Homo sapiens: one gene and its partners. Changing the gene in region 1 together with any one later gene gives a genetic interaction. Each region holds a gene or a part of one and is shown in the gene's direction. Other genes may lie near its edges.

Evidence for each region.
Region 2: changes in WEE1 (region 1) and CHEK2 are lethal when combined (synthetic lethality), as found in Homo sapiens cells (one large-scale study listed by BioGRID).
Region 3: changes in WEE1 (region 1) and SMAD4 together harm fitness more than expected from each alone (negative genetic interaction), as found in Homo sapiens cells (one large-scale study listed by BioGRID).
Region 4: changes in WEE1 (region 1) and FH are lethal when combined (synthetic lethality), as found in Homo sapiens cells (one large-scale study listed by BioGRID).
Region 5: changes in WEE1 (region 1) and CHEK1 are lethal when combined (synthetic lethality), as found in Homo sapiens cells (one large-scale study listed by BioGRID).
Region 6: changes in WEE1 (region 1) and CDK12 are lethal when combined (synthetic lethality), as found in Homo sapiens cells (one large-scale study listed by BioGRID).
Region 7: changes in WEE1 (region 1) and TOP2A are lethal when combined (synthetic lethality), as found in Homo sapiens cells (one large-scale study listed by BioGRID).

The regions. Positions count from the first base shown.
Region 1 is NC_000011.10:9,587,078-9,590,485, forward strand, and holds the end of WEE1 (wee1-like protein kinase), read left to right. Parts: intron 1-1,371; coding exon 1,372-1,525; 3' UTR 1,526-2,908; downstream 2,909-3,408. UniProt on the Homo sapiens protein: Acts as a negative regulator of entry into mitosis (G2 to M transition) by protecting the nucleus from cytoplasmically activated cyclin B1-complexed CDK1 before the onset of mitosis by mediating phosphorylation of CDK1 on 'Tyr-15'.
Region 2 is NC_000022.11:28,687,243-28,689,820, reverse strand, and holds the end of CHEK2 (serine/threonine-protein kinase Chk2), read left to right. Parts: intron 1-605; coding exon 606-686; intron 687-1,834; coding exon 1,835-1,924; 3' UTR 1,925-2,078; downstream 2,079-2,578. UniProt on the Homo sapiens protein: Serine/threonine-protein kinase which is required for checkpoint-mediated cell cycle arrest, activation of DNA repair and apoptosis in response to the presence of DNA double-strand breaks.
Region 3 is NC_000018.10:51,082,213-51,085,542, forward strand, and holds the end of SMAD4 (mothers against decapentaplegic homolog 4), read left to right. Parts: 3' UTR 1-2,830; downstream 2,831-3,330. UniProt on the Homo sapiens protein: In muscle physiology, plays a central role in the balance between atrophy and hypertrophy. When recruited by MSTN, promotes atrophy response via phosphorylated SMAD2/4.
Region 4 is NC_000001.11:241,499,930-241,502,755, reverse strand, and holds part of FH (fumarate hydratase, mitochondrial), read left to right. Parts: intron 1-185; coding exon 186-313; intron 314-2,165; coding exon 2,166-2,319; intron 2,320-2,826. UniProt on the Homo sapiens protein: Catalyzes the reversible stereospecific interconversion of fumarate to L-malate. Experiments in other species have demonstrated that specific isoforms of this protein act in defined pathways and favor one direction over the other.
Region 5 is NC_000011.10:125,638,663-125,642,162, forward strand, and holds part of CHEK1 (serine/threonine-protein kinase Chk1), read left to right. Parts: intron 1-3,500. UniProt on the Homo sapiens protein: Serine/threonine-protein kinase which is required for checkpoint-mediated cell cycle arrest and activation of DNA repair in response to the presence of DNA damage or unreplicated DNA.
Region 6 is NC_000017.11:39,467,986-39,471,485, forward strand, and holds part of CDK12 (cyclin-dependent kinase 12), read left to right. Parts: intron 1-2,893; coding exon 2,894-3,500. UniProt on the Homo sapiens protein: Cyclin-dependent kinase that phosphorylates the C-terminal domain (CTD) of the large subunit of RNA polymerase II (POLR2A), thereby acting as a key regulator of transcription elongation.
Region 7 is NC_000017.11:40,407,897-40,411,396, reverse strand, and holds part of TOP2A (DNA topoisomerase 2-alpha), read left to right. Parts: coding exon 1-43; intron 44-150; coding exon 151-288; intron 289-2,766; coding exon 2,767-2,905; intron 2,906-3,272; coding exon 3,273-3,430; intron 3,431-3,500. UniProt on the Homo sapiens protein: Key decatenating enzyme that alters DNA topology by binding to two double-stranded DNA molecules, generating a double-stranded break in one of the strands, passing the intact strand through the broken strand, and religating the broken strand.

The DNA.
Region 1 (3,408 bases):
AGCCTCCTGAGTAGCTGAGCCACAGATGCATGCCACAACACCCAGCTAATTTTTATATTTTTTGTAGAGATGGGGTTTTTGCCATGTTGCCCAGGCTGGTCTTGAACTCCTGGGCTCAAACCATCCACCTGTCTTGGCCTCCCAAAGTGCTGGGATTATAGGAGTGAGCCACCTCACCCGGCTCCAGTAGTTCGATATGTTGTTATACGGTGAAAGCTTGGGGACTTCTGCCATGAATTAGTATTTGGCCTATTAAATTTGTGTTGTTTCTAAACTTTCAAATTACGAACTTTAAAAATGTTGAGACTAACATATATTTGCAAGTGGTGATAGTCCCCAAGCCATAAATGGTAGTAAAAGCTAAGCGAGCCTATACCAATCTTTTCTTCCCAGACTCTCACCAAAAGTTAACGTTGTCCTTGAAACATTCTGTTCTTATTTTATGAAAGGATGAAATTAATGTCAATTTGGTTAGGAGATGATTCTCATATATATGTTTTTAATTTCTGGCTAAATCTTTATATACTGAATGAAGATTCTCATATTGGACTTAATGACTTGATATTTTCAAAAAGCTGGTTGCAATGGTAAAGGTTATTAAAAAGAGAATATTGGAGAATATTAAGTTACCACAGATCACATTTCTAATTCTTTTGATTTATTGCAGCCATTTTGCTTTTAACCTAATAAAACTGACTTGAAAAGGTTATGTTAACAATTAATATTAACATTTAATATTTAAATTATAAGAATTGTATATTAAGAGGTTTACTTGCCACTAGTTTGATATCCATCATAGTTCATACAAATAGGAAATAAAGTGTTCCTTTCATCTCTCTTATGTAAGGATAGATTCGCAATATAAATTGGAGTTTTTGAAATTATTATTTATTTTTAATTTTTTTTTTATTGGGGATAGGTTTGTCTGGAAATTGTTTATTATTATTTATTTAAAAAGATGGGGTCTTGCTCTGTCACCCAGGCTGGAGTGCAGTGGCACTATCATAGCTCACTGCAGCCTCAAACTCCTGGGCCCAAGCGATCCTCCAGCCTCAGCTTCCCGAGTAGCTGAGACTACAGGTGTGAGTCACCACATCCAGCTCAAATTATTTTATAAGAACCAAAGTCATTACTAGCATCTTTACTACTTGTTTTCAAGTATGTGTGATACTGTAATTCAAAAAGCATAAAATAAAATAATTTCATAAATTTAAGTTGTTTTAATAGAAGCTTCAGTTTCCTGTTTTATTTTTCAATTACATCTTAGAATAATGATGGCATGCAAATATCTCCCAATCGACAATATAGTTTGTGTTAGTTTCTTAGAATCTCTTCCTAGGAATAATACCTTGTTTTCTATTTTTATGTCAGAGAACTCAAGAAAGCACAGATGGCAAAAGCTGCAGCTGAGGAAAGAGCACTCTTCACTGACCGGATGGCCACTAGGTCCACCACCCAGAGTAATAGAACATCTCGACTTATTGGAAAGAAAATGAACCGCTCTGTCAGCCTTACTATATACTGAGCTACTCCTTTCCCACCTCCCCCTGAACACTGTGACAAGAGGAAGCTAGGTTGAAATCACTGATAGAATCCAGTTTGCAATTACTTTCTCGATTGGTGTCAGTAGTTTTACTGATTAGGACTTTTATTGTGAATTACAGTTGAAAGCTGTATTTTGATGATTGCTATGTCAGGCTTTCATCTAATCTTACCAGTCTGTCTTCTGTAGGATGTGTCACTGTTGGATGTTACACCAGCCTTTCCAGGGTTAACCACTGTGGTGGTGTGCTGCTTATAGTTTGCTGTTGCATTGTAATAAAAGGTGTCTTTCCCTGTAGTGACCTGTAAAAAGTACTCAAGGGCTTTATTACAGACATACCCTCCCTTTGAAAAGGGACATGCTAAAAGACTCATTACTACTCAGCCTTCAATGTACCTGTGTGTCCATCTTATATTTCTTTTTTTTTTAATTGTGAATTAGACTTGTATATCCCACTGGGAGCACTTTGTAGGCATTGCATGAACCATGGGATGATGATTCTGTGGAGGTATTGCCTTGTGAATTTGCTGCTATTTTAGTTTTGTCTTTGCTGTAAACTTGTAGCATTAAACAATCATTGTTGTTAATAGGTCTTCTTTTTGAAACAATTATGTGAAATGTATAGCTGCTTTTGATGAAAAGCAGCTATTTGCCTTTTTTTTTTTTTCCTTTGAACTTTGAAGCTAGTGCATTGGAAAAATGCACCCTTTCCCTCCTTTGGAATGCTGTATTAATGTAGTATAATAATTACTGGTTTTGTAACTTGTTCTGGTAATGTCCTTCCCGGACTCTTTTTAAATGTCTCCCCCTAAGTTTTATACTTGATTGTATTATTAGTCTGTTTTTAAATGTTTTGCCCGGTTTTTCTCTTCAATATTTGTGTATATAAACCGATCTTCGTGATACTGTACATAGCTGTTTGAAATGCCAGAATGACTTCTGACATTCCAAGTTTTTCACAAAATATATTTTATCTGTGATTAGCCATTTGACTAATAATACTGGCTAACAGATGTTGAAAAAAATTGTCTGTTTGTTTTCTCATTAATTTTGGTCTAAAACATGTTTGCACTTGTCTTTGACTTGTGTTTTATTAACATTGATTGGCATATTAAAAGTCACTCTGAGCTTACCTTAATTGTCTAAATCCTTGTGATGCCTGTTTTCTAATATTTTATCTCTATTATTGCTATACTATAAAATGTATAGTGTGTATAATGTACTATTATAAAAGCAGAGGGCACATTTTGATTGAATATGAATATCACATTGCATGTTATGCATGTGACTTGCTAGAAATGTAGCATGATGTAATTTAAAATATCTTCAAATTATTAAGTGAATATAATATGATTCATAACTTTCTGATTTGTACTGAGTCACAGAAAACTTTAAAGTGGGGAGGTTTTGTTTTTGTTTTTAAGATGGAGTCTTGCTCTGTTACCCAGGCTGGAGTACAGTGGCGCGATCTCGGCTCAATGCAACCTCCGCCCCCTGGGATCAAGCGATTCTCCTGCCTCAGCCTCCTGTGTAGCTGGGACTGCAGGCATGCACCACCACACCCAGCTAATTTTTTGTATTTTTAGTAGAGACGGGGTTTCACTAAGTTGGCCAGGCTGGTCTCGAACTCCTGACCTCAGGTGATCTGCCTGCCTTGGCCTCCCAAAGTGCTGGGATTACAGGCGCCTGGCCCTTAAAGTGGGGAGGATTTTAATTCTCACTAAACTAGGCTGGGTTTTAAGATTTGAGGCCAGGCGTCTTGGCTCACGCCTGTAATCCCCACCACTTTGGGAGGCCAAGGCAGGAGGATTGCTTGGGGCCAGGAGTTTGAGACCAACCTGGGCAACACAGTGAGACCCTATCTC
Region 2 (2,578 bases), on another chromosome or scaffold:
CTCCTGCAGCATGAAACCCCTCACCTCCCGCTCCTGCAGCAGAAACAAAATACTTGGTTCTGTTTATTGTCTCCCTTTCTCATTAGACCTGAGCTCTGGGATACTGTGGGCTTAAGTACTTCTGAAAATTTGTATGGCATCTGCTGGGTGAATTTTCCTAGGGTGCTGGGCTGGTTGTTAGGACAGTCTGGGTGACTGGCCTCATTCATGGCAGGGGCAGCAGGTGGAGAGTGGTCCGGGAAGGATTTGAGGAGCTGCACGGAGTCAGGCCCAGCCTCTGGCCTCCTGATTGCCACCTTTCTCAGGATCTTGGATACTAATTAAGAAACTCTTGACTGCTGGAGGCTGTGATTGACCCACTGAGAGCTTTTAGGCATGTGGATGTGAGTCAGCCAGGATTGATGGAGCATTGACTGCTAATTAGACTCCTCTGGGAAGGTAGAGGCGGGCAACACATAATGCCTTCGCTGTGGGAGCTTCATCAAGGGGATGATTCTTGGACGGACATTTTTCCTCCCTCTTTCCACAGGGGCATGCTAGCCCTGTCATTCTAGGAGTTTATTATCCTTCAGACACAGCTACTTATGTTTTTAATTCCCTCACAGGATGAAGACATGAAGAGAAAGTTTCAAGATCTTCTGTCTGAGGAAAATGAATCCACAGCTCTACCCCAGGTTCTAGCCCAGGTATTCGTATTCCTGATGATCACTAAATGTAGTCTGGGCTTAAGGAGCTGATAAGCAAAGATGATGAAATTCAAGATTTTCCTGAGTAGCAATTGCTTAACATTGTTTCAGTTATAATGTAGTAGAAACTCTGTTTTAACTTGATTCGCTCCAGCACCCTTAGATTTAAAAATGCAGGATATGTTTAATATCTAACACATAATAGACCGATAAGCACAGCTAGGGATTGTCATCCAAAAGGTCACCTGCAAGGCAATTTCGAAAGACTCTATTAGAGGCTCAAATATAAATTTGTTGAACAAATTAAAATTTGGGTCAGTAGTTGATTCCTTGATTACAATTTTATTCTTTAAAGTTCTTTGTGAGTATAAGTTAATTCCAGTCCTGCTTTTTTGTTGTTGTTGTTGTTGTTGAATGGTAGCTGTCCTTTTTCCCACTGTTTCCTCCCCCCAATTTTTTTTTTCTTGAGACAGAGTCTTGGTTTGTCACTCAGGCCGGAGTGCAGTGGTGCAATCTCAGCTCACTGCAACCTCTGCCTCCTGGGTTCAAGCAGTTCTCCTGCCTCAGTCTCCCGAGTATCTGGGATTACAGGTGTCCGCCACTGTGCCCAGCTAATTTTTGAATTTTTAGGTGAGATGGGGTTTTGCCATGTTGGTCAGGCTTGTCTCGAACTTTTGACCTGAAGCGACCTGCCCACCTCGGCTTTCCAAAGTGCTGGGATTACAGCTGTGAGTCACCGCACCCAGCCTTCCTCCCAATTTTATATATGGGAAAACAACTAAGGCACAAAGGTTGTCTTCCCGCAAAAGACCAAGACTTGGGGCTTCAACTGAGAGGTATTATAGTCCTTTTAAACTTGATATTTAGAAGAGGACGATCAAGAGGAAGTTGGTTATGCTACTTGCTTTCAGTATACATCGTTCAGAGGTCAGAAGCCATAAGGGAGAGAAATATCTATTAGATAAGCATGTCTGAGTTGGGGGCTGTGGTGAGGACTCAGTTGTCAATGATGACAACCAGTAATTTTTGGTTCTAGAATTTCACATCAAATGCCCCCACTTTACTGGAAGCATATTGAGGAACTTTGATAATCTTAAAGAAGCCAGTGATTTTCTTTTGAACATTTCTCCATTTTCCTTTATTTTCAGCCTTCTACTAGTCGAAAGCGGCCCCGTGAAGGGGAAGCCGAGGGTGCCGAGACCACAAAGCGCCCAGCTGTGTGTGCTGCTGTGTTGTGAACTCCGTGGTTTGAACACGAAAGAAATGTACCTTCTTTCACTCTGTCATCTTTCTTTTCTTTGAGTCTGTTTTTTTATAGTTTGTATTTTAATTATGGGAATAATTGCTTTTTCACAGTCACTGATGTACAATTAAAAACCTGATGGAACCTGGGCTTTGTGCTTCTGCTTGATAATCGGTTCTTTAGTTGAATGGCTTTATTATTTATTTATTTGAGATGGAGTCTCACTCTGTTGCCCAGCCTGAATGAAGTGCAGTGGTGCAGGCTTGGCTCACTGCAACCTCTGCTTCCCAGGTTCAAGCGATTCTTGTGCCTCAGCCTCCTGAGTAGCTGGGATTACAGGTATGCACCACCATGCCTGTTAATTTTTATATATTTTGTAGAGACAGGGTTTTGCCATGTTGGCCAGCCTGGTCTTGAACTTCTGACCTCAGGTGATCTGTCTGCCTCAGTCTCTTAAAGTGCTGGGATTACACGCATGAGCCACTGAGCCTAGCCTGAATGGCTTTTTTATATTTAAAGTTGTGTGCCTTTCATCTGGAGCTACACCTTGGCTATCACTAGGCAGGTTTCCCAGGATGTCACCCTGGTCTCAGCCTGTGAGAGCTGAATACAAATTCTAAGGGCCCCTTGGAAAGTTCCAGGGAAGGGA
Region 3 (3,330 bases), on another chromosome or scaffold:
AATGCATTTTTTTTTCCCGTAAAGGCAGAATCCATCTTGTTGCAGATAGCTATCTAAATAATCTCATATCCTCTTTTGCAAAGACTACAGAGAATAGGCTATGACAATCTTGTTCAAGCCTTTCCATTTTTTTCCCTGATAACTAAGTAATTTCTTTGAACATACCAAGAAGTATGTAAAAAGTCCATGGCCTTATTCATCCACAAAGTGGCATCCTAGGCCCAGCCTTATCCCTAGCAGTTGTCCCAGTGCTGCTAGGTTGCTTATCTTGTTTATCTGGAATCACTGTGGAGTGAAATTTTCCACATCATCCAGAATTGCCTTATTTAAGAAGTAAAACGTTTTAATTTTTAGCCTTTTTTTGGTGGAGTTATTTAATATGTATATCAGAGGATATACTAGATGGTAACATTTCTTTCTGTGCTTGGCTATCTTTGTGGACTTCAGGGGCTTCTAAAACAGACAGGACTGTGTTGCCTTTACTAAATGGTCTGAGACAGCTATGGTTTTGAATTTTTAGTTTTTTTTTTTTAACCCACTTCCCCTCCTGGTCTCTTCCCTCTCTGATAATTACCATTCATATGTGAGTGTTAGTGTGCCTCCTTTTAGCATTTTCTTCTTCTCTTTCTGATTCTTCATTTCTGACTGCCTAGGCAAGGAAACCAGATAACCAAACTTACTAGAACGTTCTTTAAAACACAAGTACAAACTCTGGGACAGGACCCAAGACACTTTCCTGTGAAGTGCTGAAAAAGACCTCATTGTATTGGCATTTGATATCAGTTTGATGTAGCTTAGAGTGCTTCCTGATTCTTGCTGAGTTTCAGGTAGTTGAGATAGAGAGAAGTGAGTCATATTCATATTTTCCCCCTTAGAATAATATTTTGAAAGGTTTCATTGCTTCCACTTGAATGCTGCTCTTACAAAAACTGGGGTTACAAGGGTTACTAAATTAGCATCAGTAGCCAGAGGCAATACCGTTGTCTGGAGGACACCAGCAAACAACACACAACAAAGCAAAACAAACCTTGGGAAACTAAGGCCATTTGTTTTGTTTTGGTGTCCCCTTTGAAGCCCTGCCTTCTGGCCTTACTCCTGTACAGATATTTTTGACCTATAGGTGCCTTTATGAGAATTGAGGGTCTGACATCCTGCCCCAAGGAGTAGCTAAAGTAATTGCTAGTGTTTTCAGGGATTTTAACATCAGACTGGAATGAATGAATGAAACTTTTTGTCCTTTTTTTTTCTGTTTTTTTTTTTCTAATGTAGTAAGGACTAAGGAAAACCTTTGGTGAAGACAATCATTTCTCTCTGTTGATGTGGATACTTTTCACACCGTTTATTTAAATGCTTTCTCAATAGGTCCAGAGCCAGTGTTCTTGTTCAACCTGAAAGTAATGGCTCTGGGTTGGGCCAGACAGTTGCACTCTCTAGTTTGCCCTCTGCCACAAATTTGATGTGTGACCTTTGGGCAAGTCATTTATCTTCTCTGGGCCTTAGTTGCCTCATCTGTAAAATGAGGGAGTTGGAGTAGATTAATTATTCCAGCTCTGAAATTCTAAGTGACCTTGGCTACCTTGCAGCAGTTTTGGATTTCTTCCTTATCTTTGTTCTGCTGTTTGAGGGGGCTTTTTACTTATTTCCATGTTATTCAAAGGAGACTAGGCTTGATATTTTATTACTGTTCTTTTATGGACAAAAGGTTACATAGTATGCCCTTAAGACTTAATTTTAACCAAAGGCCTAGCACCACCTTAGGGGCTGCAATAAACACTTAACGCGCGTGCGCACGCGCGCGCGCACACACACACACACACACACACACACACACAGGTCAGAGTTTAAGGCTTTCGAGTCATGACATTCTAGCTTTTGAATTGCGTGCACACACACACGCACGCACACACTCTGGTCAGAGTTTATTAAGGCTTTCGAGTCATGACATTATAGCTTTTGAGTTGGTGTGTGTGACACCACCCTCCTAAGTGGTGTGTGCTTGTAATTTTTTTTTTCAGTGAAAATGGATTGAAAACCTGTTGTTAATGCTTAGTGATATTATGCTCAAAACAAGGAAATTCCCTTGAACCGTGTCAATTAAACTGGTTTATATGACTCAAGAAAACAATACCAGTAGATGATTATTAACTTTATTCTTGGCTCTTTTTAGGTCCATTTTGATTAAGTGACTTTTGGCTGGATCATTCAGAGCTCTCTTCTAGCCTACCCTTGGATGAGTACAATTAATGAAATTCATATTTTCAAGGACCTGGGAGCCTTCCTTGGGGCTGGGTTGAGGGTGGGGGGTTGGGGAGTCCTGGTAGAGGCCAGCTTTGTGGTAGCTGGAGAGGAAGGGATGAAACCAGCTGCTGTTGCAAAGGCTGCTTGTCATTGATAGAAGGACTCACGGGCTTGGATTGATTAAGACTAAACATGGAGTTGGCAAACTTTCTTCAAGTATTGAGTTCTGTTCAATGCATTGGACATGTGATTTAAGGGAAAAGTGTGAATGCTTATAGATGATGAAAACCTGGTGGGCTGCAGAGCCCAGTTTAGAAGAAGTGAGTTGGGGGTTGGGGACAGATTTGGTGGTGGTATTTCCCAACTGTTTCCTCCCCTAAATTCAGAGGAATGCAGCTATGCCAGAAGCCAGAGAAGAGCCACTCGTAGCTTCTGCTTTGGGGACAACTGGTCAGTTGAAAGTCCCAGGAGTTCCTTTGTGGCTTTCTGTATACTTTTGCCTGGTTAAAGTCTGTGGCTAAAAAATAGTCGAACCTTTCTTGAGAACTCTGTAACAAAGTATGTTTTTGATTAAAAGAGAAAGCCAACTAAATCATTATGTGCTCATTCTTTTTCTTAAGCTTGTGGATGTCTTGGATCTGGAAAGGGTTTCTGATCACTTAGAGAATTTTCAAACTTTAGGTCAACATTTTCCTTTATTGCCTTGTGGCCACTGAAATGGGAAATGTGACATTTAAAATATGACCCTGGAATAACAGTCCCCATTCTTCTCTCATTTTTAAAAGGAGAAGGTGAAGTGATGGTGATCAGAGAGATGGGTGCTAGGGAATTATAAGAACCAGGATGCTTAAAGGAGAGGTAAAATTGGAAATTGGAGACCCTTTCATTGCCCAGCTAAGGGATAAGGAAAGCTGTTTCTCTCCCATCTGCCTTCTCTGTGAAATAGGGGTCAATGGGAGGGGAGTGGTGGTCAGGTAAGTAGATTCCGTGGCAATGGCTTGTATATAACAAGACCACATCAGCATTTTATTTCTAAGCTTGCTGACATGAGTTTCAGAGAGTTTATCGGGCTGAGAGATTTCTTCTCACCTG
Region 4 (2,826 bases), on another chromosome or scaffold:
TGAATGATTCATTTTGTGGCTACCCATCCCACCTTCCTTGGTTGGTTTGTTTCATTAAATTACACTGATGGTTGGGCCTTGCTTTATTGTATATCTTACTCTATTTAGTGAAATTAGATTTCTTTATTCTCCTGATTATTTGCATAAATTTAGTCTTTACTCTGTCATTGGTGGTTTTCTTGAAGGCAAGGTGAACCCTACTCAGTGTGAAGCAATGACCATGGTTGCAGCCCAAGTCATGGGGAACCATGTTGCTGTCACTGTCGGAGGCAGCAATGGACATTTTGAGTTGAATGTTTTCAAGCCAATGATGGTAAGCTTTAAATCTGATTTTTAATGTTTTTTGACCAAAGGCTTATTATCTTGGTTTTGTATTTCATAAAGACTTCTAGTGATTCCACATTGGGTAGTTGGGTGACATAAGTAGCAGTTGGAAGTCAAGCATTTATTAAGTTACCAGAATAATCCTAGATAATAGAAATTAGTTGACTTTTAACCTAAGCAATTTGATGTTTTTTTTAATAGCCCGTTTAAGAAAAATAAAATGCCTCCCTACAAGCCTGTCTCCTTCTCATGCTGCTGCTTTCTTCTTCAAATTCAGTCTTCTTGGAAGGATAGCACATACTCACTTTCATTTATGCTGTAGTCACCACAGCCCAGCATGGCCCCCTCCACGCTTGAATTATTCTCCCATTCATTGGTGACTACCTCAGTCCAGCTGGCATTGCGCAGTTAGTTCTTCCCTTACTAATAGTTGATGTTGACTGTCCCTCCTTGAAACATTCTTCATCCCTGCTTTCTTGAACATTTTTTCACCAGTTCTTCTTCTGCCCCCTGTCAGACTTCGTTTCATTGTCTGGCTTTACCTTTCCACATACTTGAAAACATTGTGTCCACCCAAACCGTTCTTTTTCTTTCGTCTTTACGAAGATCGATAGATGCATCGCGCCATTTCTCATCAGTTTCCTCAGCTGCAGATAGTGGAGCTGTTGCCATAATTTAGAGTCCTTCATTTGGACAAAGTGTTATAGCTAAAGTAGAGTAGGGGCTTACTTTCTCTTGGAATCTCTTCTAAATTCTAATTTTAATTTTATAAGAATATGCAAATGACAAATATGGAGTATATTTAATATATTCACTAAATATTTATTGAGTACCATTTTCTATCAGGCACTGTACTGGATGCATAATAGAGATAGAGCAATGAAAAGACAGATTTCTTGCTCTCATGGAATGTATATCCTAGTGGTAAATAAAAACACAGGCCAGAGCAGAACTCAGACTGTTAAAATTTTGCTCTCAGGTCAGATTCCAAACAGTTAACACGAGATACCCAGCATTTATAGGTGCATAACAATAAATGCCTTGTTAATCTTTTTAAAATTTTATTTTTAATGTAAAATAAAGATAATCAATATTTGCCTTATTACAAGGTCATTAGTAGCAAATTAAAACTTAGATTATATGTCTTAGAGTCCATTGTTGGAAGTCTAGTTTTCAGACCGGAGTTTTAGACCAGAGGATATTAGGATTTGGATATATCTTAATAAATATTGGAAATGTTGCCAACAAAGCCAAAACAAACTAATTGATTTTATACTGTTTTTTAATATTATATGAAAAGTTATTTTACAGTGACTGGAGTATTCGTTAAAGCATAGAAAACCTAGAAATTTGGTGATCATTAGATTTTGCCCTGACTTTACTAATTGCCTCACACTCATACTGAACTTTCGAACCTCTGCATCTTTGCTCCTCTTCCTTCTGCGTGGAAGATTCTTTTTCCTTCTCTGGCCAAGTCCTCTCCATAAAATAGGATTTCACCAGTTCCGACAACTGGAGTTAATTTCTCTTTCTCTATGGTCTCTAACACTTCAGACCTCTGTTTTAAATACTTGCTATGGGCTATTTTGTGTTTTAGTCATTTGTATTTATGTCTTTTTCACCTTTTTTAGATTTCTGTGCCTTCAAATGTTCATGCTTTCTTTCACATTTGTTTCCTTGGTTATAGTGCCTTAAAATTTGTAGAAGATCTATATGTTTATTGAATTGTATATTTACTGTCAACCAGAAAATAATATGTTATTGGACAAAAAACATGTTGCCTTAGTAATGTCTCTCTCTCTCTCTCTCTCTCTCTCTCTCTCTCTCTCACTCACTCAAAGATTAAAAATGTGTTACACTCAGCCAGGCTGCTGGGGGATGCTTCAGTTTCCTTTACAGAAAACTGCGTGGTGGGAATCCAGGCCAATACAGAAAGGATCAACAAGCTGATGAATGAGTCTCTAATGTTGGTGACAGCTCTCAATCCTCATATAGGTAAGTGTTTAAGGAATAATAATATCATTTTGAATGCAAAATTAAAAAGCTAAACCATTTTTAAGAGACAAGTGGATCAGTGTTTGAGAACAGCAAATTTCTTTTGAATATGGTTTTAGTAAAATCTCAAAATATTTGAAATTGTGTGGAAAGGTACTATATAACTTGTATGGTGTCATAGTTCTTTCAAAACTAGATCTATTATGCCTCATTTTATTTGAAATGTATCGAGAAGTAGTAGTTCAAACTTATTTTGATTTTAATGGAATTCAGACGCCAAATATTCTATGCAGACCATTGGGGAAGGTTATTTGTAAGACCTTCAGTGGGTAATGTCACTAGGTGGCACTGCTGATTAGCAACATTGAATGAACTCATTTTTCTACCTTCCCTAGATCTCTACAATGCTTTAATTTTGTTGTTTTATTCAATTCAGAAATGGAAAGTTACAATTAAAAGAAAAAGTTTATGTATTCATTGCTTATAGTGAAAGGGAGGAAGGAAAAT
Region 5 (3,500 bases), about 120 Mb from region 1:
ATGGTACAGGTGTCCTCCTTATTCTTCATTGTCACTTTCTCCCATCTTCCTTTATGTCTCTCCCCTCTAACTTTTGAACCCCAAATTAAAATTTCTGCCGTACTATCACAGTCTGCAAAATGACTCTTGATGTTATTTTCGTCATGATTCTTGGTGATTTAAATATTTATTTGGATCATCCTCCTGATATCCTGACTTCACTGTTTCTTGACCCTCTCTCCTATAGTGATGTTGTCTTTGAACACGCTGCACTGATCACCAGTATAATTTTTTCTGACTTCCTCCCTTAATATTCTAACTTAAACAGTCCTTTGTATCTGGACTTGCAATTAATTAATTCTATCTCTTCAGTCTCTTACCTGCTCCCTCTCTAGGTCCTTGATTTCATCTTTACCTATCTTAAATCTTTAGGTTAGTCATTATAAATGACTGCTTTGCGTTCATCATCTTCAATTTCCTTGTCCCCTTCTCTCTTCATCATACTTAGTGGGTAAAACCCAGTAAGTAGTTTCTGGGTTTAATCTAGTAGTTTTCTACGTACTGCACACTTGTACCTGCACAACAGATTGCAGCAGGAGAAAAATACCCAAAAATGTTCACTTTAAATTCAGGATTACTAATCTCAAGTGGGCCCTTAATGCTTCCTGGCATTTGGCCTTCGTTTCCCCACATCTTTCTCTGTCCTGTTCTCCTAAATCACGTTTTTATAATACTTTTCTCTTTTTTTTTTTTTTTTTTTTGAGACAGGGTCTAGGCTGGAGTGCAGTGGCGCCATCTCCACTCACTTCAACCTCTGCCTCTCAGGTTCAAGCGATTCGATTCTCGTGCCTTAGCCACCCGAGTAGCTGGGATTACAGGTGTGAACCACCACACCTGGCTAATTTTTATATTTTTAGTAGAGGTTTTGCCATGCTGGCCAGGCTGGTCTCAAACTCCTAGCCTCAAGTGATCCCCCTGCCTCAGCCTCCCAAAGTGCTGGGTTTATAGGTGTGAGCTACTGTGTCTGGTCCCTTAACTTTTATTATCTTCTCTCCATCCTCACTCTCAGTTGTTCACTTTGCTTCCTGTGTCACTGGGAAATGAAAGCCACAAGAGAACTTAGGCAAGCTCCCACCACCATCTCCTCCATACTAACTGCCTCTATGCTCATGTATTCTCTTTCATCCTGTATTGCTGTAGATAAATTGCTCTGGATGTAAGCCAGGTCTTTCTCTTACCCACTCAATGACTTTGTCTAGCAATTTTTCTCCCTCTCCTACATTATTAATTTTTCCTTCTCTACCGGATCTTTCTCATCAGCATATCTACATGCTTTTTCTCCCATTTTAAAATCAAATCATAATGGTAATAAAATTTCTCTTAACTCCACTTTTCCCTACCATTCCATCTTCTTCACAATTGAATATTCCTAAAATTGCTTCTCATCTCTAACACCTCAAAACTAGTTTTCAATTTCATCTATTTTGTTGCCAAGAGTCACAGTGATTTTTGGAACGTGTTGCCAAGTTCAATGTAATAGTCCACTGTGGTCAACCGAGGTCTGAAAAGATTAAATGGAAAGTACCAGAAGTAAACAATTCATCAATTCATGGGTTTTGGCCGGGCGCGGTGGCTCACGCCTGTAATCCCAGCACTTTGGGAGGCCAAGGCGGGCGGATCACGAGGTCAGGAGATCGAGACCATCCTGGCTAACACGGTGTCACCCCGTCTCTACTAAAAATACAAAAAATTAGCCGGGCGAGGTGGCGGTCGCCTGTAGTCCCAGCTACTCGGGAGGCTGAGGCAAGAGAATGGCGTGAACCCCGGGGGGCGGAGCTTGCAGTGAGCCGAGATCGCACCACTGCACTCCAGCCTGGGCAACAGCGAGACTCCGTCTCAAAAAAAAAAAAAAAGAAATTCATGGGTTTTATTTATTTATTTAATTCGAGACGGGATCTCGCTCTGTCGCCCAGACTGGAGTGCAGTGGCGTGGTCTCCACTTACTGAAACCTCTACCTCCTGAGCTTAAATGATCCTCCCATCTCAGCTTCCCGAGTAGCTGGGACTACAGGTGTGAGCCACTATGCCCGGCTAATTTTTGTATTTTTGGTAGAGATGAGGTTTCGCCATGTTGCCTATGCTTTTCTACCAAAAATACAAAAATTAGCCAGGTGTGGTGGTTCACGCCTGTAATCCCAGCTGTTCTCAAACTGCTGGGCTTAAGCAATCCACCCACCCCGGCCTCCCAAAGTACTGGGATTATAGGCATGAGCCACAATGCCCTGCCATAGGTTTTAAATTGTGTGCTGTTCTGAGTAGCATAATAAAATCTTGTGCTGTCCTACTTCATCTCACTTGGGATGTGAATCACTCCTTTTTCCAGTGTATTCACGTTCCATGTGCTACCTGCTTGTAACTCCCTTAGTAGCTGTTTTGGTTATTAGATCGAAAGAACATATATAGGGTTTGGTACCATTTGTACTTTCAGGCATCCACTTGAACATATCCCTCTGTGGATAAGGGGGGTACTACTGTAGTCAGTTCTCAGACCTCTTGTTTTATCTCATCAATATTTTATACAGTTGATCATGCCCTCCTCCTTTAAACACTTTCTTCATTTGGCTTCCAGGCGTTACACTCTTCTGATTTTCGTCCTTCTCACTGGTCGCTCTTTTCAGTCTCTTGATGGTTTTTTTTCATCTGCTCAGCCTCCTACTATTGGAGTTCTCCAGGGCTGAATCTATGGATCTCCTTTGTTTTCTTCTCCACACTCACTCCATTAGTGATATTACTTGGTTTCATGGCTCTAAATAAAACTATATGTTGATAGTCACATTTATATCAACCTAGACCTTTCCTCTGAATTCCAAACTTACATGTCTTAACTGCCTTCTGAAATTTCACTTGAATGTTAAGAGGCATCTCACACTTGATGAATTCCAAACTGAGTTACTGATCTTTTCCTTTCAAACCCATTCCTTTTCAAAGTCTTTCCCATGTTGGTTAATGGCAACTGCATTATTCTTATTATGCAGATCAGAAACTTTGGAATCATCCTTCATTTTTCTCATTCTCTTTTACTTCACATCCAGTACACCAGCTAATTCTGTTAACCTCTATCTTTAAAAAAATCTTAGAATCTGATTACCTTTTTTTTTTTTACCTCTACTGTTACCCTATCATTCCAAATTACCATGATATCTTTCCAAAATGTTCTGATTTAAAAGTGAATTAGAATATATCACTATTCTACCCAAATCCTCCAATGCTTTAGTTCTCACGTGTAGTGTAAGCTAAAATCAGTTCATGACCTGTGAGTTCTTACACAATTTTGTTCCTTACATTACCTCTCCAACCTCAGTTCTGCTTTGCTCCCCCTTGGTCATATTGTTGTTCTTCTTATTGTTCTCCAAGTGCTCTAGGCACACTTCTACCTCACTGTTTTTGTAGTGACTGTTCCTATGTCTGAAAATGCTTTTTCCCATGGGACTTATTTGCATGTCTTATTCTCTTACTTTCTT
Region 6 (3,500 bases), on another chromosome or scaffold:
CGGGTTCAAGCAATTCTCCTGCCTTAGCCTCCCGAGCAGCTGGGATTACAGGCGCACACCACCATGCCCGGCTAATTTTTTTGTATTTTTAGTAGAGCTGGGATTTCACCATATTGGTCAGGCTGGTCTCAAACTCTTGATCAGGGTGATCCACCCGCCTCAGCCTCCCAAAATGCTGGGATTACAGGCGTGAGCCACCGCGCCCAGCTTCCAATAATAATTTTATATTTTAACTGACTTTTGGAAGCAAACTTGCAAGAAGCAGTATAGGTAAAAGAAAATCATCGCTGCCATTATGCAAGTTGTTTCCCTTACACATATATGTTGTTTTGAAACATTTTGGTTCATGTCAGTCTTACTATATGTCAGTCTTACCATATCTCCCTGATCAAAGATAAAGGAAGATGTGATGATCTAGAATGGAAGCAATTTGTTTTAGACTACTGGGAAAATTTTGTTTTGTCCAATTATGCTTTTAATATTTTTATTTTATTTATTTATTTTTTTGAGACGGAGTTTCACTCTTGTTGCCCAGGCTGGAGTGCATTGGCACAATCTCAGCTTACCACAACCTCTGCCTCCCAGGTTCAAGCGGTTCTCCTGCTTCAGCCTCCCGAGTAGCTGGGATTACAGGCATGCATCACCATGCCCGGCTAATTTTGTATTTTTAGTAGAGACAGGGTTTCTCCATATTGGTCAGGCTGGTCTCGAACTCCCGAACTCAGGTAATCCGCCTGCCTCAGCCTCCGAAAGTGTTGGGATTACAGGCGTGAGCCACAGTGCCCGGCACTTTTAATGTTTTTATTTTAATTAATTAATTAATTTATTTATTTATTTATTTATTTTGAGACAGATTTTCGCTCTGTCGCCAGCCTGGAGTGCAGTGGCGCAATCTCTGCTCACTGCAACCTTGGCTTACTGCAACCTCCGCCTCCTGGGTTCAAGTGATTCTCCTCCCTCAGCCTCCCAAGTAGCTGGGAATACAAGCATGTACCACCACACCCAGCTAATTTTTGTATTTTTAGTAGATACAGGGTTTTACCATGTTGGCCAGGATGGTCTTGATCTCCTGACCTCGTGATCTGCTGCCTCGGCCTCCCGAAGTGCTGGGATTACAGGCGTGAGCCACAGCACCCGGCCTTTGTTGGTTTTTTGTTTTGTCACACATTGAGGCCTTAGCAGGTTAGGCTTTAGTAAAAAGTCATGAGAATTAATGACATTTGGGTTTCAACTTAAAATGATCTGCCCCATAGATTCCCAGATTTTATTTCCAAAGCCTTTCTTAAGAAGACAATTAATTAAACATGCAATAATATCTTTAGGAGTTTCTAAAAAGTCTATTGGAAATCATTTTATAATAAAGATATTAGGAGCCCTCATGTTTTTGAAACGTTCTAAAAGTTATTTTGGTAAATCATTTTCTCCACTTTATTTGTTTTGTAAATCCTAAGCCTTATGTGTTGGGAATTTGTTTAGTACTTTATTTTAAACTTTACAACTTTATTATAAACTGAGGATGCAAGGAACAACATATTTTTCTGGGCTCTGCCATTTAACTCTCTAGCTAACAAATTTAGGTTTTGGTGAAGCATGCTTGTTGCTTTTAACTTCCTGATGGATATAACCCACCTTTACTATGGAGTATGACTTCTTTTTTTTTTTTTTTTTTGAGACGGAATTTTGCTGTTGTTGCCCAGGCTGGAGTGCAGTGGCACAATCTCGGCTCACCGTAACCTCTGCCTCCTGGGTTCAAGCGATTCTCCTGCCTCAGCCTCCCAAGTAGCTGGGATTACAGGCGCCCACCACAACGCCTGGCTAATTTTGTATTTTTAGTAGAGACGGGGTTTCTCCATGTTGGTCAGGCTAGTCTCGAACTCCCAATGTCAGGCGATCCACCCATCTTGGCCTCCCAAAGTGCTGGGATTACAGGCGTGAGCCACCGCACCTGGCCAAGCATGACTGCCTTATCCTGTTTTCACTTTATCAAAGATTAAATTCAAAATTCTGAAAGTAATCATTGTGAGTATGGCTGTTTCTTTTCCAATGTGGGAAAAAAATAGTGACCCATCTTTTTTCAGATGAATAAGTAGTAGATAATTTTATTGTTATATGATTCAGATATGTTTTCATGTAGGATTTAGTTTAATCTATTTTTTTTTTTTTTGAGATGTAGTCTCACTCTGTCGCCCAGGCTGGAGTGCAGTGGCTTACTGTAAGCTCCACCTCCCAGGTTCATGCCATTCTCCTGCCTCAGCCTCCTGAGTAGCTGGGACTACAGGTGCCTGCCACCACGCCTGGCTAATTTTTTGTATTTTTTAGTAGAGATGCGGTTTCACCGTGTTAGCCAGGATGGTCTCGATCTGCTGACCTGGTGATCTGCCCGCCTCAGCCTCCCAAAGTGCTGAGATTACAGGTGTGAGCTACCGTGCCCAGCCAGTTTAATCTATTTTTTAAATGAACTTTATTTCTTTAGAGTAGTTTAAGATTTACAGAAAAATTGTGAAGATAGCGCAAAGAAGTCTCATATATCCCTGCATCCAGTTTCTCCTATTGTTAACATCTTACATTAATGTGGTACAGTTGTTACAGTTAATGAGCCAATATTGATACATAATTATAAACTGGAGTCCATACTTTATTTAGATTTACTTAGTCTACCTAATGTCCATTTTCTGTTCCAGGATCTTACTCATTATACCATCTTACATTTAGTCCTGTCTCCTTGGGGTGCCTCTTGATTGGGCTGGTTTCTCAGACTGTCCTCGTTTTTGATGGCACTTAATCTATTTTACAATTGATAAGTTACAGTTCTTCATAGTTTGTTTTATTGATCTGTTTTCCTCCATATACTACTGTAGTCCATTCATTTAAAACTGGCTTTTTATTTTTCCAGTAGGAAATCCATGAAGTCCAGAAGTAGAAGTCCTGCATATTCAAGACATTCATCTTCTCATAGTAAAAAGAAGAGATCCAGTTCACGCAGTCGTCATTCCAGTATCTCACCTGTCAGGCTTCCACTTAATTCCAGTCTGGGAGCTGAACTCAGTAGGAAAAAGAAGGAAAGAGCAGCTGCTGCTGCTGCAGCAAAGATGGATGGAAAGGAGTCCAAGGGTTCACCTGTATTTTTGCCTAGAAAAGAGAACAGTTCAGTAGAGGCTAAGGATTCAGGTTTGGAGTCTAAAAAGTTACCCAGAAGTGTAAAATTGGAAAAATCTGCCCCAGATACTGAACTGGTGAATGTAACACATCTAAACACAGAGGTAAAAAATTCTTCAGATACAGGGAAAGTAAAGTTGGATGAGAACTCCGAGAAGCATCTTGTTAAAGATTTGAAAGCACAGGGAACAAGAGACTCTAAACCCATAGCACTGAAAGAGGAGATTGTTACTCCAAAGGAGACAGAAACATCAGAAAAGGAGACCCCTCCACCTCTTCCCACAATTGCTTCTCCCCCACCCCCTCTACCAACTACTACCCCTCCACCTCAGACACCCCCTTTG
Region 7 (3,500 bases), on another chromosome or scaffold:
GAAGAAGAAGAACAAGGGTGGTGTTGCAGTAAAAGCACATCAGGTATGTGCTTTTGGCAGTTTTCTTTTTCTAAAGTCAAGGAAGAAGAGAAAGGCTATAAATAAAGCATGAGTACATTTTTAGTGGCTTAATATCAACTTCTATTGCAGGTGAAAAATCACATGTGGATTTTTGTAAATGCCTTAATTGAAAACCCAACCTTTGACTCTCAGACAAAAGAAAACATGACTTTACAACCCAAGAGCTTTGGATCAACATGCCAATTGAGTGAAAAATTTATCAAAGCTGTGAGTACTTAGAGGAAAATAAAAATAGAAACACCTGACTTTATTTTCCATTGCACTTCTTAGCTCTGCAGAAACAATGATTCTTCTCATAGTGAGCTTCTCCAAGTCTTCCCAATCTGAAAAGGAAGTAAAAAAGGGCTTTACTTTAACTGATTTACCAAAGACTTAATGACCGTCTATATTTCAGTATTTCCCAATTACATTTTACCATTAAGCTTAGATCACTTTTGAATTAATCTAGCTGTTTAACAAACACCCTCACTTAAATGCCTAAGACTTGCTTTCAGTCAACACATCCAAAATTGAATTTGTTACCTCCATACTCACTGATTTGCCCATACAAGCAGCCCCCCACTCTCCAACAAAAAAACAACTTCCTATCTTAGTAAAAAGCCCCAACCAACCTCTAGGTTGTATAAACAAGAAAGCTGGGAGCCTTCCTTTATTTCCCCTCCTCTCTAATCCGGTCAATAAGAATCATCTCTTGGATGCTGCAGTAGCTTCTCACCATTATCTCTTTTTTGGTTTACTACAATAGGTTCTTAACCTTCATACTGGTTAAGTCCTTTCCTTGGAATGCTTTTGAGTGACTTTTGTGTTAAAACACCCATTTTTATCTTCACTCTCATTTGAAATCTTTCAATGACTTCCACTCAGGGAAAGTCCAAATTCCATAATTTGGCCAACAAGAAAGATCTGCTGTAATCTAATTACACCTACTTCTCCAACTCATCTCAGTGCCAGTTTTTCGTATATTGTCCTGTTGCTTTTAAATTACTGAAAAGCACAGTGCTCTTCCCCTCCTCAGAGTTTATTCACATGCTAATCCCTCTGCATGAAATACATCCTTTTCACCTGGCTACTTTAGGTCTTGTCCTTTCCTCAGGAAAGCCTTTACTTTCTACCCTTCCCCCCACCTAAGTTGGTTCCAATATAATATTGAACATACCTTATTAGCAAACTTTTTGCTTATCCATAACACTTATAACACTGTAACTTATTTTATTTCTGTCTTTTTTTTTAGGCAGAGTCTCGCTCTGTCGCCCAGGCTGGAATGCAGTGGCACGATCTCGGCTCACTGCAACCTCCGCCTCCTAGGTTTCAGTGATTCTCTTGCCTCAGCCTCCCGAGTAGCTGAGATTACAGGCATGCATCACCATGCCTGGCTAATTTTTTTGTTGTTGTATTTTCAGTAGAGACAGGGTTTCACCATGTTGGTCAGGCTGGTCTCAAACTCCTGACCTCAAATGATCCACCCATCTCGGCCTTCCAAAGTGTTGGGATTACAGCCATGAGCCACTGTGCCCAGTCTTTTTTTTTTTTTTTTTTGAGACAGAGTCTTGCTGTGTTGCCCAGGCTACAGTGCAGTGACGTAATCCTGGCTCATTGCAATCTCTGCCTCCCAGGTTCAAGCGATTCTCCTTGCCTCCTGAGTAGCTGGGATTCTCCAGCCTCCTGAGTAGCGGGGATTACAGACATGCACCATCACATCCAGCTAATTTTTGTATTTTTAATAGAGATGGGGTTTTACCATGTTGGCCAGGCTGGTCTTGAACTCCTGGCCTCACTTGATCCACCATCCTCGGCCTCCTAAAGTGCTGTGATTACAGGCGTAAGCCACTGCACCCAGCTATGTCTGTCTTCTATGTTGTGTCTTAAACTTGATGAGGACAAGTGTCTCAATTTGTTTTATTTGTGTCTAATTTTATTTATTTATTTTTAATTTTTTTTTTTGGAGACAGCTTCTCACTGTTTCCCAGGCTGGAGTGCCGTGGCTTGATCTCAGTTCACTGCAACCCGCGCCTCCCAGGTTAAAGCAATTCTCCTGCCTCAGCCTCCCAAGCAGCTAGGATTACAGCCATTTCACCACCACCATGCCTGGCTACCCTTTTTTTTTTTTTTTTTTTTTTTTTTGAGACGGAGTTTCACTTTTGTCACCCAGGCTGGAGTGCAATGGTGCGATCTTGGCTCGCTGCAACCTCTACCTCCTGGGTTCAAGCGATTCTCCTGCCTCAGCCTCCCGAGTAGCTGGAATTACAGGTGCCCACCACCACGCCAGCTAATTTTTGTATTTTTAGTAGAGCCGGGGTTTCGCCATGTTGGCCAGGCCGGTCTCAAACTCCTGACCTCAGGTGTTCTGCCCACCTTGGCCTCCTAAAGTGCTGGGATTATAGGCGTGAGCCACCGTGCCTGGTCTAATTTGTTTTAACCACTATATCTCCAACAAGTAGCTCAGTGCTAGCACAATATAATTATATAGTAAATATTTATTGAACGAATGAACCAAAAGGAGCAGCTCCCTCAGTGGTGATAACCTGACATGGGAAGATGTGCCACCCTCTATCCAGAAATTATTGTTCTACATCTTTTTAATTTTTGAATCATTTTTATTTGTATTAAGGCTCATTTGTATTCTAGATTTCTGATAGATCCCTTCTTCCCTAATATGATCCCTAATATGAATCTTCTCGTTTTCAGGCCATTGGCTGTGGTATTGTAGAAAGCATACTAAACTGGGTGAAGTTTAAGGCCCAAGTCCAGTTAAACAAGAAGTGTTCAGCTGTAAAACATAATAGAATCAAGGGAATTCCCAAACTCGATGATGCCAATGATGCAGGTATATATTTAATAATGTTTCCAAACTTTTAAGTCTTATAGTTGTTATTTTATTCATTAATGGCATACCACGGATATTTATTTTTCCCTTGACAGAATAACTATATTCAACAGAATAACTTGTTAAAAATCGGCCCGTTTCCTATTATGGAAGATTTAGGTCATTTCCATGTTATAAATAATATTGAGGTGATTATTTTGGAGTATAAAACAAGAATGTTTATATTATGATCTATTACCTAACAAATAATTTTGCTCATTATATAGTAAATTGTGTTTTATCACAAGGCTATAAACAGCATGTTCAAGTTAGTATATTTGAGGTTGAACTAAATGTGCTAATATTAATATGTATATTTTTATTTTAGGGGGCCGAAACTCCACTGAGTGTACGCTTATCCTGACTGAGGGAGATTCAGCCAAAACTTTGGCTGTTTCAGGCCTTGGTGTGGTTGGGAGAGACAAATATGGGGTTTTCCCTCTTAGAGGAAAAATACTCAATGTTCGAGAAGCTTCTCATAAGCAGGTAGAATATAAGACGATCTTCAGAATCTAAATCTAATTTATAATACAAGACTTTATGCTTATATTTAATT